4 linked regions of the Homo sapiens genome follow. The protein of the gene in region 1 purifies or fractionates together with the protein of each later gene. This does not show direct contact. Each region holds a gene or a part of one and is shown in the gene's direction. Other genes may lie near its edges.

The links. Proteins that work in one complex are often made in the same cells at the same time.
Region 2: the proteins of ASB3 (region 1) and KIAA1671 purify together in Homo sapiens (affinity purification with mass spectrometry, with the first as the bait; 2 studies listed by BioGRID). This does not show direct contact.
Region 3: the proteins of ASB3 (region 1) and ZNF318 purify together in Homo sapiens (affinity purification with mass spectrometry, with the first as the bait; 2 studies listed by BioGRID). This does not show direct contact.
Region 4: the proteins of ASB3 (region 1) and KATNB1 purify together in Homo sapiens (affinity purification with mass spectrometry, with the first as the bait; 2 studies listed by BioGRID). This does not show direct contact.

The regions. Positions count from the first base shown.
Region 1 is NC_000002.12:53,717,400-53,721,070, reverse strand, and holds part of ASB3 (ankyrin repeat and SOCS box protein 3), read left to right. Parts: intron 1-3,671. UniProt on the Homo sapiens protein: Probable substrate-recognition component of a SCF-like ECS (Elongin-Cullin-SOCS-box protein) E3 ubiquitin-protein ligase complex which mediates the ubiquitination and subsequent proteasomal degradation of target proteins. Recognizes TNFRSF1B.
Region 2 is NC_000022.11:24,955,716-24,959,215, forward strand, and holds part of KIAA1671 (uncharacterized protein KIAA1671), read left to right. Parts: intron 1-3,500.
Region 3 is NC_000006.12:43,363,148-43,366,647, reverse strand, and holds part of ZNF318 (zinc finger protein 318), read left to right. Parts: intron 1-1,207; coding exon 1,208-1,356; intron 1,357-2,428; exon of another isoform or gene 2,429-3,233; intron 3,234-3,500.
Region 4 is NC_000016.10:57,734,358-57,738,569, forward strand, and holds the start of KATNB1 (katanin p80 WD40 repeat-containing subunit B1), read left to right. Parts: upstream 1-1,412; 5' UTR 1,413-1,498; intron 1,499-2,078; exon of another isoform or gene 2,079-2,287; intron 2,288-2,620; 5' UTR 2,621-2,886; coding exon 2,887-2,926; intron 2,927-4,212.

The DNA.
Region 1 (3,671 bases):
TCTTGGCTCACTGCAACCTCCCCCTCCTGGTTCAAGCAATTCTCCTGCCTCAGCCTCCTGAGTACCTGGGATTACAGGCGCGCACCCCTGTGGCCAGCTAATTTTTTTGTATTTTTAGTAGAGATGGGGTTTCATCGTGTTGGCCAATTTGGTCTCAAACTCCTGACCTTCAAGTGATCTGCCCATCTCGGCCTCACAAGTGAATCAGTTTTTTAAATTTATTGAGATGTGCTTTTTGGCCGAGCATGTGGTCTGTCTTGGAGTATGTTATATGTGCTGTTGAGAAGAATATATATTCTGTGGTTGATGAGTGGAGTGTTCTTTAGATGTGTATTAGGTCCAATTGGTCAAATGTTGAATTTACACCCAGAATTTGTTTTTTAATTTTCTGCCTCAGTGATCTGTCTAATGCTGTCAATGGGATTTGACATCTCCCAACATTATTGCTATCTCTATAGATCTCTAAGAGCTTGTTTTATGAAACTGGATGCTTCAATGTTGGGTGTGTGTATATTTAGGATAGTTAAGTCTTCTCATTGAATTGAACCCTTTATCATTATGTAATTACCTTCTTTGTCCTTTTGTACTGTTGTTGGTTTTTTTATATATAATTTTTTCTTGAATAGAAATGGGGTCTCACTGTGTTGCTGTGAACCCCAAATATCTGAGAGAGATCTCAGTCAATTTAGGAAGTTTATTTTGCCAACATTAAGGGCATGTGCCTGTGACACAGCCTCAGGAGGTCCTGGCAACATATGCCCAAAGTGGTTGGGGCACAACTTGGTTTTATACGTTTTATACATGAGACATCAATCAACATATATAAGATATACATTGGTTCTGTCTGGAAAAGCGGGACAACTCAAAGTGGGGAGAGTATGTCCAGGTCATAGGTAGGTAGGAGACAAATGGTTGCCTTTTTTTTTTTTTTTGAGTTTCTGATTAGCCTTTCCAAAGGAGGCACTCAGATATGCACTTATCCCAGTGAGCAGAGGGATGACTTTGAGTTTGAGTTCTGTCTGTCCTTCGTCCACAGGGAAATTCCTTGTGAGGGAGGTACGTAACTTTTTCTAATCTTAGTAGCTATTTTTTAGGAATAGAATAGGAGGCAGGGTTGCGCTAAGCAGTTCCCAGCTTGACTTTTCCCTTTGGCTTAGTGATTGTGGGGGTCCCAAGATTTATTTTCCTTTCACATTGCCCTGGCTGGTCTTGAACTCCTGAGCTCAAGCGATCCTCCCCCCTTGTAAGAGTTAAAGAAAGAGGAAAGAAACACAAAAGATGGGTTGGCAGTTAAAGACAGGTTTACTTTAGATAAAACCTGAGAAGGGTTTCTGGCTGATTTCGATCAGGAGCACTTTCTCTTACAGGCTAAGTACATGAGTATATATTGGTTTTAGGGTGAGGGGGCTTATCACAAGCTTGGAGTGTTTATGTGTGGGGGAGAAGTTTATGGTGAGGTTGGAATGTCTCTGGGTGAAGGGGGGATTATCTTGGGGCTGACGTCTTTCTAGAAGGAAGGGAGTTATCTCGGGGCTGGCATCTTCCCAGCCAGAGCAGGGCAGCTAGCATGTCTCTGGTCGCAGAGGAGTTTGGCATGTTCCTGGTCGGAGATGCTTTTTTTGTTTATGATCATGCTGATCTTAGCCATTTAGGCTGATGCGCTTTGGATTTAGGAAGTTTTTGATTAAGGTGAATTGGAAAATAACAGTGCTTGTGCAAGATGGTGATACTCCTGCTCTGTCATACTTCGGCCTCTCAAAGCTCTGGGCTTATAGGCGTGAGCCACTGTGCCTGGCTCTGTTGTCTGATTTAAAGTCTGTTTTATCTGATATAAGAATATTGACCCCTGGTTGGGCGTGGTGGCTCACGCCTGTAATCCCAGCACTTTGGGAGGCCGAGGTGGGTGGATCACGAGGTCAAGAGATCAAGACCATCCTGGCCAACATGGTGAAACCCCGTCTCTATCTGCTAAAAATACAAAAATCAGCTGGGCGTGGTAGTGCATGCCTGTAGTCCCAGCTACTCGGGAGGCTGAGGCAGGAGAATTGCTTGAACCCAGGAGGCAGAGGTTGCAGTAAGCCGAGATCGCACCATTGCACTCCAGCCTGGCGACACGGCGAGACTCAGTCTCAAAAATAAAATAAAATAAAATAAAAAACTAGTGACCCCTGACCTTTTTTGTTTTCCATTTGGTTGATAAATCTTTTTTCAACCCTTTACTTTGAGCCTATGGGTGTTGTTACATGTGAGACGTGTCTCTTGAAGGCAGCAGATGGATGGGTCTTTTTTCTTTCTTTTTTTTTTTTTAATCCAAATTGCAGCTGTGTGCCTTTTAGGCAGGATGTTTCGTAAAAGGCGAAAGATTTGTATGATCTGAAGAGACCCTTTACATTCAAGGTTAATATTGATATGTGAGGTTTTGATCCTATTATTAAGTTGGTAGATGGTTGCTTTGCAGTTTCTATTGTATGATTGTATTATGGGGTCTTTGGGCTATGTACTTCAGTGTGTTTTTGTGGTATCAGTGTTGTTCTTTCATTTCCATGTTTAAAAGTCCCTTAAGGATCTCTGCTAAGACTGGTCTAGTGGTAACAAATTGTCTTATCGCTTGCTTGTCTGTAAAATATTTTATTTCTCCTTCGTTTGTGAAGCTTAGTTTGGTGGAATATGAAATTCTTGGTTGTAGTGTCCTCTCTTTAAGAATGCTGAAAATAGACCCCCAATCTCTCTTGCCTTGTAAGGTTTCTGCTGAGAAGTCCACTGTTCCTTTTGTATGTGATCTGACGTTTTTCTCTAGCTGCCTGTAAGATTTTTTCTTTAGTGTTAACCTTCAACAGTCTGGTGACTGTATGCCATGGTGATATTCACGTTCACAGAGAGTTCTCTGTATTGCTTCTATCTGGATGTCTTCCTCTCTGGCAAGATTAGGGAAATTTTCTTAAATTATGTCCTCAAATATGTTTTCCAGGTCATTTACTTTTTCTCCTTCTCTCTCAGGAATACCAATAATTCATAGATTTGGTTGCTTTACATTATCAAATATTTCTCAAAGCCTTTTTCATTAAAAATTTTTTATTTTTATTTTTATCTGACTGGGTTAGTTTGAAAGACTGATCTTCAAGCTCCAAAATTCTTCCTTCTGCTTGGCCTAGTCTATTAATAAAACTTGCAGTTATATTTTGAAATTCCTTAAGTGAGTTTTTCAATTCCAGAAGCTCTGATTGATTCCTTTTTAAGATGTTTATCTTAAGATGCCTTCATTTCCTGAATTGCTTTAGAAGTTTCTTTGTGTTTATTTTCAACCTTGTCTGGATCTTGTTGAGCTTCCTTGCAATCCTTGCTTTGAATTCTTTATCTGTCATTTCTGAGTTTCCATTTGGGTCAGGAACCATTGCGGGAACACGACTGTGATCCTTCAGTGGTGTCACTATATTTAGATTTTTCACAAATCCAAAATTCTTGGGGTAGTTCCTTTTCATCTGGAGATGTTCACACTTCTAATTTTTGTAATTATTTTCATGCAGGTGGGATTTTTTTCTTTTTCTTTCTTTCACTATAATATTATTGTTTTTCCCTTTCACATTTATGATTTTAAATATCAACTCAGAAACCTGTTGAAAGAGACCCTTTTTCTCTGATTGTAGGCATTATTTATCATGCAGTGGTTATGA
Region 2 (3,500 bases), on another chromosome or scaffold:
GCAGGCTGCTAGAAAAATCCAGGTGAGAGGCCAGGCGCGGTGGCTCACGCCTGTAATCCCAGCACTTTGGGAGGCCAAGGCAGGACGATCACGAGGTCAGGAGATCGAGACCATCCTGGCTAACATGGTGAAACCCCATCTCTACTAAAAATACAAAAAAATTAGCCAGGCATGGGGCAGGTGCCTGTTCTCCTGGCTACTTGGGAGGCTGAGGCAGGAGAATGGCATGAACCGGGGAGGCGGAGCTTGCAGTGAAGCAAGATCATGCCACTGCACTCCAGCCTGGGCGACAGAGTGAGACTCCGTCTCAAAAAAAAAAAAAAAAAAGAAAAGAAAAAAGAAAAATCCTGGTGAGAGACCGCGGTGCGCGGTGGACTGGACGTAGAGACCAATGGTGTTGGAGGGGTGTTCACTGACAACTTTGACATTGATCAGTGTTACATTTAGAGAGCCACTCACTTTGAAGATCCCTTCCTCAAGGTGGGTGTAACAGTCTACCTGGGGTAAGGAAACCCCTCAGAGGGAGTGGTATCAGTACTGAATTCAGTTTAGCAAACCTGCTTTAGAACCCTGTGCCTGTTCAGGGGTAGGTATAAAACATGCCAGTCCTCAAGGACTTCCTGTGGGGAGACATGGGGCACATTATTCCCATTTCACTGATGCAGGCCTCTGTGGCATTGTGAGGCGTTTGCCAGGCAGCAGTGGCAAAGCAGGAATTTGAACTCCCTTCCAACTTGCAACTAGTGAATATTTGGGTTCAGGTTAAGCCGTAGAGAAGCAACAGAGGAAGGTGGGTTTCAGTTGGGTGTGGAAGGGATAAATTGAAGGAGCCTTCCCGGAGGAGGCAGATAGAAGGGAGGGAGCCAGCCAGCCGGGCGTGGTGGCTCACGCCTGTAATCCCAGCACTTTGAGAGGCCGAGGCGGATGGATCACGAGATCAGGAGATCGAGACCATCCTGGCTAACACGGTGAAACCCCGTGTCTACTAAAAATACGAAAACAAAAAATTAGCCGGGCGTGGTGGCGGGTGCCTGTAGTCCCAGCTACCTGGGAGGCTGAGGCAGGAGAATGGCGTGAACTGGCGAGGCGGAGCTTACAGTGAGCCGAGATAGTGCCACTGCACTCCAGCCTGGGCGAGAGAGCGAGACTCTGTCTCAAAAAAAAAAAAAAAAAGAAGGGAGGGAGGGAATCAGCCAGAGATAGTCCAGGGCAAACCCTGGCCCTGCCTGCTCCTGGCTGTGGCCTTGGGCATGGTTATGGTTTTGAGACTCGACTTCCCTATCTGTAAAAAGGGCTCATGATAGGATACTCCCATTCTCAAAAGGTTCTTATGTGAGTTTACTGAAGCAGTGTATGGACAGTGCTAGGCCCCGTGTCTATGCTCTGTAAGGGGTGGTATGATTATTATCACTATAGCCTGTCATCAGGATAAGTTCCAGGTGGGTGGTGCTTTGCTCAACCTGGTGTGTGCCTGTGTGTGTTGGGGGGAGAGAGGGAGTGACCCACAGGTGATACTTGAGTCTTAAAGGATGAGTAGGAGGGAGGGCTGGGACATTCCAGGCAGAAGCAACAGCACTGGCAAAGGCATAGATCGCCTGGAGAACTGCATGCCAACTGATATACCCAGAATTCAGGATGTGCTGAATGAATAAAAGTTAGACCATGGGCAGCAAAAATTCCTTTTATACCCCAGACACTCCCTGAATTTCTAAACCTGAAGGCTTTGGCAGGTTTGGGACAGAGAGGAGGGCAGGAGCATCCCTGTCCAGGAGTTCACTCTCCTTCTTCCACTCACCCATCCAGATTATAGGAGTGTGAACCTAGATAAGCCATGTCCCCCCGGGACCTCAGTTTCTTCCTCTGTAAAATGGGAGGACTGGGGAGAATGTAGGTAAAGCACATAGTGCATCAGAGCTGCGCTGTTATGCCAGAATCTGGGCTAAGCTCTTTTGTTCCTTTTTTTTTTTTTTTTTTTTTTTGAGACGGAGTTTTGCTCTTATTGCCCATGCTGGAGTGCAATGGCAGGATCTCGGCTTACTGCAGCCTCCACCTCCTGGGTTCAAGTGATTCTCCTATCTCAGCCTCCCGAGTAGCTGGGATTACAGGCATGTGCCACCACGCCTGGCTAATTTTGTTATTTTTATTAGAGACAGGGTTTCTCCATGTTGGTCAGGCTGGTCTCGAACTCTCGACCTCATGTGATCCACCCACCTCGGCCTCCCAAAGTGCTGGGATTACAGGCACCCGGCCTTTTTTTTTTTTTTTTTTTTTAATATTTTACAACAAACCCAGGTGGTGCCTGTTTTTGAGACCCTCGACTTTACAGTTCATGAAACTGAGGCTTCAAGAGGTTATTGATGTGCTGCGAGGTCACGCAGCGGGAAAGTGGAAGAGCTGGGATTTGAACCCAAAGCTGTCTGCCTCAAAGCCATGCCCTTCCCACTTGCATGGCTCCCAACACAAGGAGGGGTGCTTCTGCCTAGTCTCACTACTCAAACTGCTGCCATTTAAGAAGAAGCTAAGGCCAAGCACAGTGGCTCCTGTCTGTAATCCCAGCGCTTTGGGAGGCTGAGATGGGAGTATTGCTTGAGCCCAGGAGTTTGAGACCAGCCTGGGCAACATAGCGAGACTGTCTCTGAAAAAACAATTTAAGACCGGGTGAGGTGGCTCACGCCTGTAATCTCAGCACTTTGGGAGGCTGAGGTGGGCGGATCACCTGAGGTCAGGAGTTCGAGAGCAGCCTGGCCAACATGGTGAAACCCCGTCTCTACTAAAAATACAAAAATCAGCCAGGCGTGGTGGTGGGGCACCTGTAATCCCAGCTACTCGGGAGGCTGAGGCAGGAGAATCCCTTGAACCCCGGAGGTGGAGGGTGTGGTGACCTGAGATCATGCCATTGCAATCCAGCCTGGGTGACAGAGCAAGACTCTGTCTCTTAAAAAAAAAAAAAAAAAGGTTAAAAATTAGTCTGGCGGTCAGGCACAGTGGCTCACACCTGTAATTCCAGCACTTTCGGAGGCAGAGGCAGGTGAATCACCTGAGGTCAGGAGTTCAAGATTAGCCTAGCCAACATGGAAAAACCCTCTCTCTACTGAAAATACAAAACAAAACAAAAAAATAGCCAGGTATGGTGGCACATGCCTGTAATCCCAGCTACTTGGGAGGCTGAGGCAGCAGACTGCTTGAACCTGGGAGGTGGAGGTTGCCCTGAGCCGAGATTGTGCCACTGCACTCCAGCCTGAACGATAGAACAAAACTTCGTATCAAAAAAAAAAAAAAAAAAGAAAAGAAAAGAAAAAAAATTAGCCTGGCAGTGTGTCAGGCTGTGTCCCATCTAATTCAGAGGCTGAGACAGGAGCATTGCTTGAGCTCAGGAGTTCGATGCTGCAGTGAGCTTTGATTGCACCACTGCACTTTAGCCTGAGACAGAGTGAGTCCTTGTCTCAAATAAATAAATACATAAATACATAAAAATTTAAAAAATTAAAATTAAAAATAAA
Region 3 (3,500 bases), on another chromosome or scaffold:
AAAAAATGTTTTGGTGTGGGGAGGGATTTCACTATGTTGCCCAGGCTGGTCTCAAACTCCTGGCCTCAAGTGATTCTCCTGCCTCAGCCTCCCAAAATGCTGGGCTTACAGGCATAAGCTACCATGCCTGGCCCGGGGAGTTAAAATTTTTGAGAGTAGTCAGGGAAGGCCTCCTGGGAAGGTGATTTTTGAATAAAGATCTGAAGGAGGTGAGGGTGTGCTGTGCAAGCATCTGGAGGAAAAATGTAGTCAGATGATGTCACTATCCTGTGTAAAACCCTCCTATAACTGTTAATTGCACTAAGAATAAAATCCAAATTTCCCAACTGTGCTTTCTGCCTATCTTTTCCTCTTCTGTCACTTTGCTGCAGCCACACCGGCCGCTTTTCTGTTACTTAAAGTATACCAAGCTCTATACTGAGGTGGTTCTTTTCTTTGCCTGAAACATCTTTCTACCTGTTCTTTGCAAAGCTGACACCTCATTCTTCAGGCCTCAGGTTATCACCTGAGAAAAACCTTTTCTAACCATCCTATCTGAAGTAACTCCTTTTATGGTACCATGTTTTAATGACTATAGCACTTACCAGAAGAATTTTTTTTTTCTTTAAACTTGTTTTTGGCTTACCTCCTTCACTAGAAGTATGTACACTAGAAGTAGGGTTCTGAGAGCAGGGACTTTATTCACTTCTCTTTTCCCATGCCCAGTAAGAATGAGAGGTCACCGTTTAGGAGAGTTAGAGGTATGGGCTTATATCTCTAAGAAAATGATAATTTTTAAAAAGTGCTTTATTTTTGGTATAGTGTCTTACCATAACCATTTCTCACCTTGTTGAACCCCAACTTTGCAGGGTTGTCTTTTGTTTTTGAGACAAGGTCCTGCTCATTGCCCAGGCTGAAGTGCTGTGGTGCAGTCATGGCTCACTGCAGCCCTGACCTCCCAAGCTTAAGCTATCCTCCCACCTCAGCCACCTGAGTAGTTGGGACCACACCTGGCTAATTTTAAACTTTTTTTTATAGAGATGGAGTCTGTGTTGCCCAGACTGGTCTCACATTCTTGCCTGGGCCTATACACCTCAGCCTCCCAAAGTGTTGGGTATACAGGCATGAGCCACCATGCCTGGCTAACTTTGTAACTAGGGAGGAGAGTTTTTGGATGTAGGGATGTCTTGACCCTATTGACTAACCATATTATCCTTTACTTTTGTAGAGACGCTCTCCTGGTCTGTGTTCTGACTCTTTGGAAAAGAGCTTAAGGATCACTGTTGGCAATGACCACTTCTGTGTTAGCACACCAGAACGGCGACGGCTTAGTGATCGGCTGGGGTCACCAGTGGATAATCTGGAAGACATGGACAGGTAGGCATCACCTAAGGCAGGGCCTACTATACTAGTACTTGAAGGCAGAAATGTTGCTGTTTTCCGAATGATATATTTGAAAGGATGGTGCCAGCTCTAAAGTTATTTCCTATGCCACATGTCCAGTACAAAATAAAACGCTGGGATAGAATTTCTAAGTGGGAGGAGTATAATGATGTGTAGACTCTGTTGTTGAATAAATTGTATAGAAAAAAAGACTTTAAAAAGGTCATCTGAGTCTGACTAGAAAGAAGAGGCTGAGGGGACATAATCAGAGTCCCCCAAATGAAGAACAGTTGAGATGGTATAGATTCTAAAACAGTGAAACTATGAGCAGTCCCTTCTCCAAAGAAAAGTTCTGGACAAAATGGGAAGTCTTTTTAAAATGGTGTTATTTTTTAGTTTATCCAGGCTGAAACAGATTCAGAAAGGGTTAGGTAAGTTCATGTCTAATATATGTGTGTATGTGAAGTAGATAAAGTATTAATAGAAAGCTAGAGACCTTCAAAAATGTTTAAGTTCAGTTATTATTTTACAACTATTGAGTGCTGAGGAAGGGTAGATACACTCAAGAGAGTTGGATATAGACCTCAGGTACTAGGAACTTAACCATATATAGATTGTAAATAATCACATTAGGTGTTTTTCACCTCACAAAAGTCAAAGTATGGATGGGAGTTCAGGAAAGCACTCTTTCTCAGAGCTGAGACCATGACTGTTATGGTCTCTGCCCAGCACATTGGGAGTTTTGACAAATGATTAGCAGTAGCAATAAATCAATGTAATGTAATTTCAAACTGAGACTGTCGCTTGCCGTGTTGCACAGAGCATAGCTAGGCGGGTGGGGGAGAGCTGGGCAGGAAGTCTGAGGACCAGTTTTGCCGTTGGTAATACCTAAAAGTTCCATTGGCTGTGGATGCAGTGAAGCAAGGCAGAACAGTCTTTTTTTTTTTTTTTTTTCAGGCTTAATTCACTTTATATTTCTTGTATAAAAACCCTATGTTGTAGCCACAGCTGGAGCCTACGTCCTCTGCACAGAGACTCTGGTGTGTGTCTTGATGAGGTGGTCAGTGAATTCCTGATAGGGAGACTTGGTGAATCCTGTCTCCTTCCAGAGGTCGGGGGTCAGGTAGCTGTAGGTCTTAGAGATGGCATCAAAGGTGGCCTTGGCGAAGTTGCCCAGGGTGGCAGTGCAGCCCCTGGCTGAGGTGTAGCAGTCATCAATACCAGCCATCATGAGCAGCTTCTTGGGCACGGGCTGAGACGATGCCAGTGCCCTTGGGCGCAGGGATGAGGTGCACCAGCACAGAGCCGCAGTAGCCTGTCACCTTGCAAGGAACGGTGTGGGGCTTGTGGATCTTGTTCCCCCAGTAGCCTCTGTGCACAGGGAGAATGGAGAGCTTGGCCAGGATGATGGCCCCGCAGGTGGCAGTGGCCACCTCCTTGGAGCACTTAACACCCAGACCGACGTGGCCATTGTAGTCCCCGATGGCAACAAACGCCTTGAACCTTTTCAACTGGCCAGTGTGGGTCTGCTTCTGCACTGGCATAATCTTCAACACCTCATCCTTGAGAGAGGCCCCCAGGAAAAAGTCAGTGATCTCAGATTCCTTGATGGGCAGGAAGAAGAGGTAGTTCTCCAGGGACTTGATCTTTATGTCCTTAACCAAGCAGCCCAGCTTGGTGACAGGCATCCACTCCTTATCCTTGGCCTTGCCTCCACGAGCTCCGTGGCCTCAGCCCTGTCCACAGCTGCAACCCCAGCCCCTCCATGGAAGCCACCACGGTTTCCCATCCCAGGGCCCCCGGGGCCTCTGCCCCCGCCCCACCCCCTCCACCGACATCATCTGCCATTTGGTGTTTTCTCAGAGAAGAAGCAAGGCAAAATAGTCTTATGTCATATAACATTGAAGCTTCTAAAGGGCTTCAAGATATGTGACTGTATCACTTAATTGAGGCAATAGCCCTTGCTCTTCTGGCTGCTTCTGTTTGGGGAAATTATTGAGTAGGTAGTCTGGGTAGGTGGTACATAGTGTGATTGTCTTCATTCTTTGCTGAGGTTTTGAGTTAGCTTCAGCAGTTCTTCTTAGGCCTAGGATGTCACTTCCCCTTTGCATAAACTTTGTTATGCACATGTGCTTCAG
Region 4 (4,212 bases), on another chromosome or scaffold:
TGCAGGCTAGACAGTTTTGATCCGATGTTATTCTGCTAATCTTTTAAAGGTGTCTTGCGGTGACTCACGCCTGTAATCCCAGCACTTCGGGAGGCTGGGGCGGGTGGATCACCTAAGGTCAGGAGTTCAAGACCAGCCTGGCCAAAATGGAGAAACCCCGTCTCTACTAAAAATATAAAAACTAGCCTTAGCCCGTCGTGGTGGCGGGCGCCTGTGGTTCCAGCTACCCAGGAGGCTGAAGCAGGAGAATCTGAAGCAGAAGGCTGAAGCAGAAGGCAGAGTGGGGACTCCCCCACGCTTTGGCTTTCAGAACAAGGGTTCGAATTCTGGGGCTATTACTTTCTGACCGTGTGGTTTTCTGCAAGCATCTTAACCCGGGCCTCAGTTTCCTCATCTGTAAATGGGAACAGGAATTCCTACCTCTTATGGTTGTACTGGGCGTTATGTGAGCCCAAGGAGCCCTGACCTGCGGTGAGAGGCTGGAGGCCGAAGGGCAAGGTTCGAGGGGCTCTGGGTGCCTGGGACAACCTCTGGGCAACAGGGAGAGGCGGCTGCGGGGCCAAGTCCCTCCTAAGCGGCCACGCGAGAGGCCCTGAGTCGAGAAGGGTTACGGCGCTTCCCAGAGCCCACCCCGCCCAACGTGTCACAAATAAAGCTGGCCTTTCTCCGATTCCCTGATTGCAGCCATTCAGGGAGCAGCCCCTTGCCCACGCATCCATTAGTCGAGGCGGTGGCTGCGTGTGCAGTGCTACAGGGTTCAGCGCCTGCCTCGGCTCCGGAATCAGGCTGTTTCCTTCTAGACCTCCCATGGGGGATTCAAGCCGGCGTCCGGGTCAAAGAACAGGGACAAAGTCCTCCTGCCACGGGGGACCATCTGCAGGCAAAGTGAAGAATGAGGAGCTTCGGCAAAATGCCGACTAAGGCCTCCTTAGGTTTTGCCCCACTCCAAGATGGAAGGCCTGAGGCTTCACACTGCCCCCGAAGTTCCTTTCCCATTGGCTATCTGGGAATTGAGTTTTCCAATAATGCGGACGCTGATTGGTCAATCCAGGACGGTTGCTCAAGCCATTGGCGCAGCCGCCATTGGAGGGCGGCTCTCAAAAGTTTTCAGACACAAATTAGGTTCGAGGGAGGAAACGGAGAGGAAAGGGAAAACTTGAGACGGAGGCGGGACTAAGGAAACGGCAGCTTGCATTGGTTTATTAGAGGCCAAGGGGCGGCTCTTGAACGTTCCTTCCTCTTGATTAGTCCTATTTAGGAAAAGAGGGCGGGTACTGAGGAAAAGCGGCAGAAGCGCCTGCTTCCATTGGTCAGTCCTGGCAGGAGGCGGAGCACCCGCGGCAGCTGATTGGTGCGGGAGGCAAGGTGGGCGGGGCTCTGAGCCGGAGGTTTTGTTGTGAGGGTCGGTTGTCAAGCAGCGGCCAATCAAGGCAGGGGATGGAGGCAAGTGGGGGTCGCGCCTGGAGCGGAGCCTCGGCCTCCGGAGCCGCAGCTGCAGGTGGAGTGGGCAAGGGGACGAGGTGGCGAGGGGACGGTGGGCCCTGGGCTGGGCCGAGCCAGGCGGGGCTGGCTGGGCTTGCGGGCAGAGAGCTCTGAGCGTGGGGAGGCTAGAGCCCGTACTCCGCAAGCAGAGGGTTGGGAGGATCAGCCGTGGCCGAGGGACCTGCCCCCGCCCCCGGACGAGAGGGGTCGGGGTGGAGGCCGGAGGGGGCAAAACCAGGGAGGCCGGAAGCAGAGCTGGGGGTCTGCAGAAGGACAGGTAATGAATAGGGAGAAGAGAAGTAGGAGAATGAATGAATGGGAGACCCCGCGAGCATATGGGAAAGGGCAGTAACGGGAGTCTGGCGAGGCAGGGGCCACGTGAGGGATATCGGGAGACAGGATGTGCATAAGTGGGAGACTCAGGGGGCAGGGAGAAAAGGGGGTGTGAACGGAGGACTAGAGAGGCAGACCCGGGGACCCAGGAGAAAGGGGACGGAGGGGAGCGGGCTCATGGGAAAGAGGTGAAGTGGCTGTGGGAAGGAGGTGGGAGGCTCCATGAGGAGGCCTTTTAGAGTTGAAGAGTCATAGCCACTTACGCCCAGACTGGAGGCCTAGTTCCTAGCTCTGTCCTTGGGAATCGCAGGGAGCAGGAGCGGTTCCCTTGCCAGGAGCTGGGGAATTGGACCATCAGGGTCGTCTTCGAGATTCTTTCCAAGGAGGACTTCAGTGGCCGTCTCTGGGATGCCTTTCCTAGGCCCCTAAGCTTAGCTTCTGACTCCGCTCTCCCACATCCCACACGTCAGACAAAAACAACGACTCGCAGGAAATCTATGTGAATTGCAGACACGTGGTCTTCTCCGCCCCACTGCGGCTGCTGCACTTTAGGCAGCCAGCATCCCGGAACAGAGCTGCAGCTCATTATCCTGGCCTCTGGGAGGAGTTTCTTTTTCCTTACGTTCCAAATCACCCTACCTGAGGTGCCCCCTCTGCAGATTCCCAAACCTAATTTGCAGTGCAGCTTCTGACTCTGGTGGCTTTGGTGGGTGTCAGTCTTTATCAAGTGGTCTTGGTGATCCAGGGAGCAACAGCTCTTACCAAGCATTTTCTAACATGACGTCACCTCTTGTTTGTATTGCAGCCCTGTATTGAGCTGAGATGGCTCGAGCCTAACATTCCATGATCCAGGATCGTGACAGATGTGCACAGGCTGCTGCTGTTGCTGCTGTGGGTAATTTGGAACCACGAGGCACCCCAGGGCCAGAAGACGAGGCATTCTGTCTGCCTGGATGTGTGGGAACTCTCTGCCAACTTGATTGGTGGATCTGGGGGGGGATCCACCCCCACCCCACGAGGAAAGCACAGTTTATTTTGTGGGTGGGGCTTCAGGTGCCAGCCAGCTGAAGGATGGCCACCCCTGTGGTCACCAAGACAGCCTGGAAGTTGCGTGAGTGGTTTTCATTTTTCTTTATCACCCCATTTATTCTGTTAGCGGCTTGTTGCTGGGAGGCCTGAACCCACAGCTTTGTTTCCTGTTCTTGGCACAGGAGGAGACTCCTAGACTTGGGAGTAAGATAGACCATTATGTAAATCATGACTGTGGCACTTCTTAGCTGGGTGACACTGGGCAGGTGACTTAACCTCTCTGAGGCTCAGTTTTCTTATATGTACAATGAGATGACGCCTGCATTCTATGGTTGCTGTGAAATTCAAGTGACAGGATGAACCCATCCTAAAGCACTTAGCACAGCATTTCCAGTTAGGCTGACAGTGGGGTGAGAAATCCTGAAAGATGTTCACAGCATTCTCAGACATCTCACAAGTCAAACTTCCCCAGTCAGATAAAAGCATCTTGGGCCTGGGATGGGGGAAGGAGTGGGAGCGAGGAGGGGCGGGCAGAGGGATGCAGACAGGGCTCGGATTGTAACTGATGGGCACTGTCCACTCCCACCATTGCCCTATACAAGTGGATCTGGACTCTTTCATCTGAAGACTTCATACTTTAAGAATTATTGAGGACCCCAGAGTGCTTTTGTTTGTTGGAGTTATATATCTGTCAGTATTTACCACGTTAGAAGTTAATACTGAGACATTTTCAAACAAGAGTATATAATCAAATAGGCCTCTAGTGATGTTCTGGGAAACTCCACCATATGCTTGAGAGCAAATGAGAGTGCAAAAGGCAGATGCCATCTTAGTGTTATTGTGAAAATCCTTTTGTCTTCTCAGACCCCCCGAAAGGATCTTGAGGATCCCAAGCATCCCCAGATCATATTTTGAGAATTCCCCTACACATTGGCACCTTGGTGGGCCCTGCCCCACCTATTGTAACTGGTTGGCATAGCTTTTGTGTGCTCCACCTGGTCACTGTCTGCTGCCAGCTGTCCCTGGGCTGGTTTTCAGGAGCTGGGACAAGACTCCACACTTTTTTTTTTTTTTGAGACAGAGTCTCACTGTCACCCAGGCTGGAGTACAGTGGTGCAATCTCAGCTCACTGCAACCTCTGCTTCCCGGGTTCATGCGATTCTCGTGCCTCAGCCTCCCGAGTAGCTGGGATCACAGGCACCCGCCACCACACCCGGCTAATTTTTGTATTTTTAGTAGAGACGGGGTTTCACCATGTTGGCCAGACTCGTCTCGAACCCCTGACCTCAGGTGATCCACGTGCCTCAGCCTCCCAAAGTGCTGGGATGACAGGCATGAGCCACCATGCCTGGCCAAGACTCCACACTT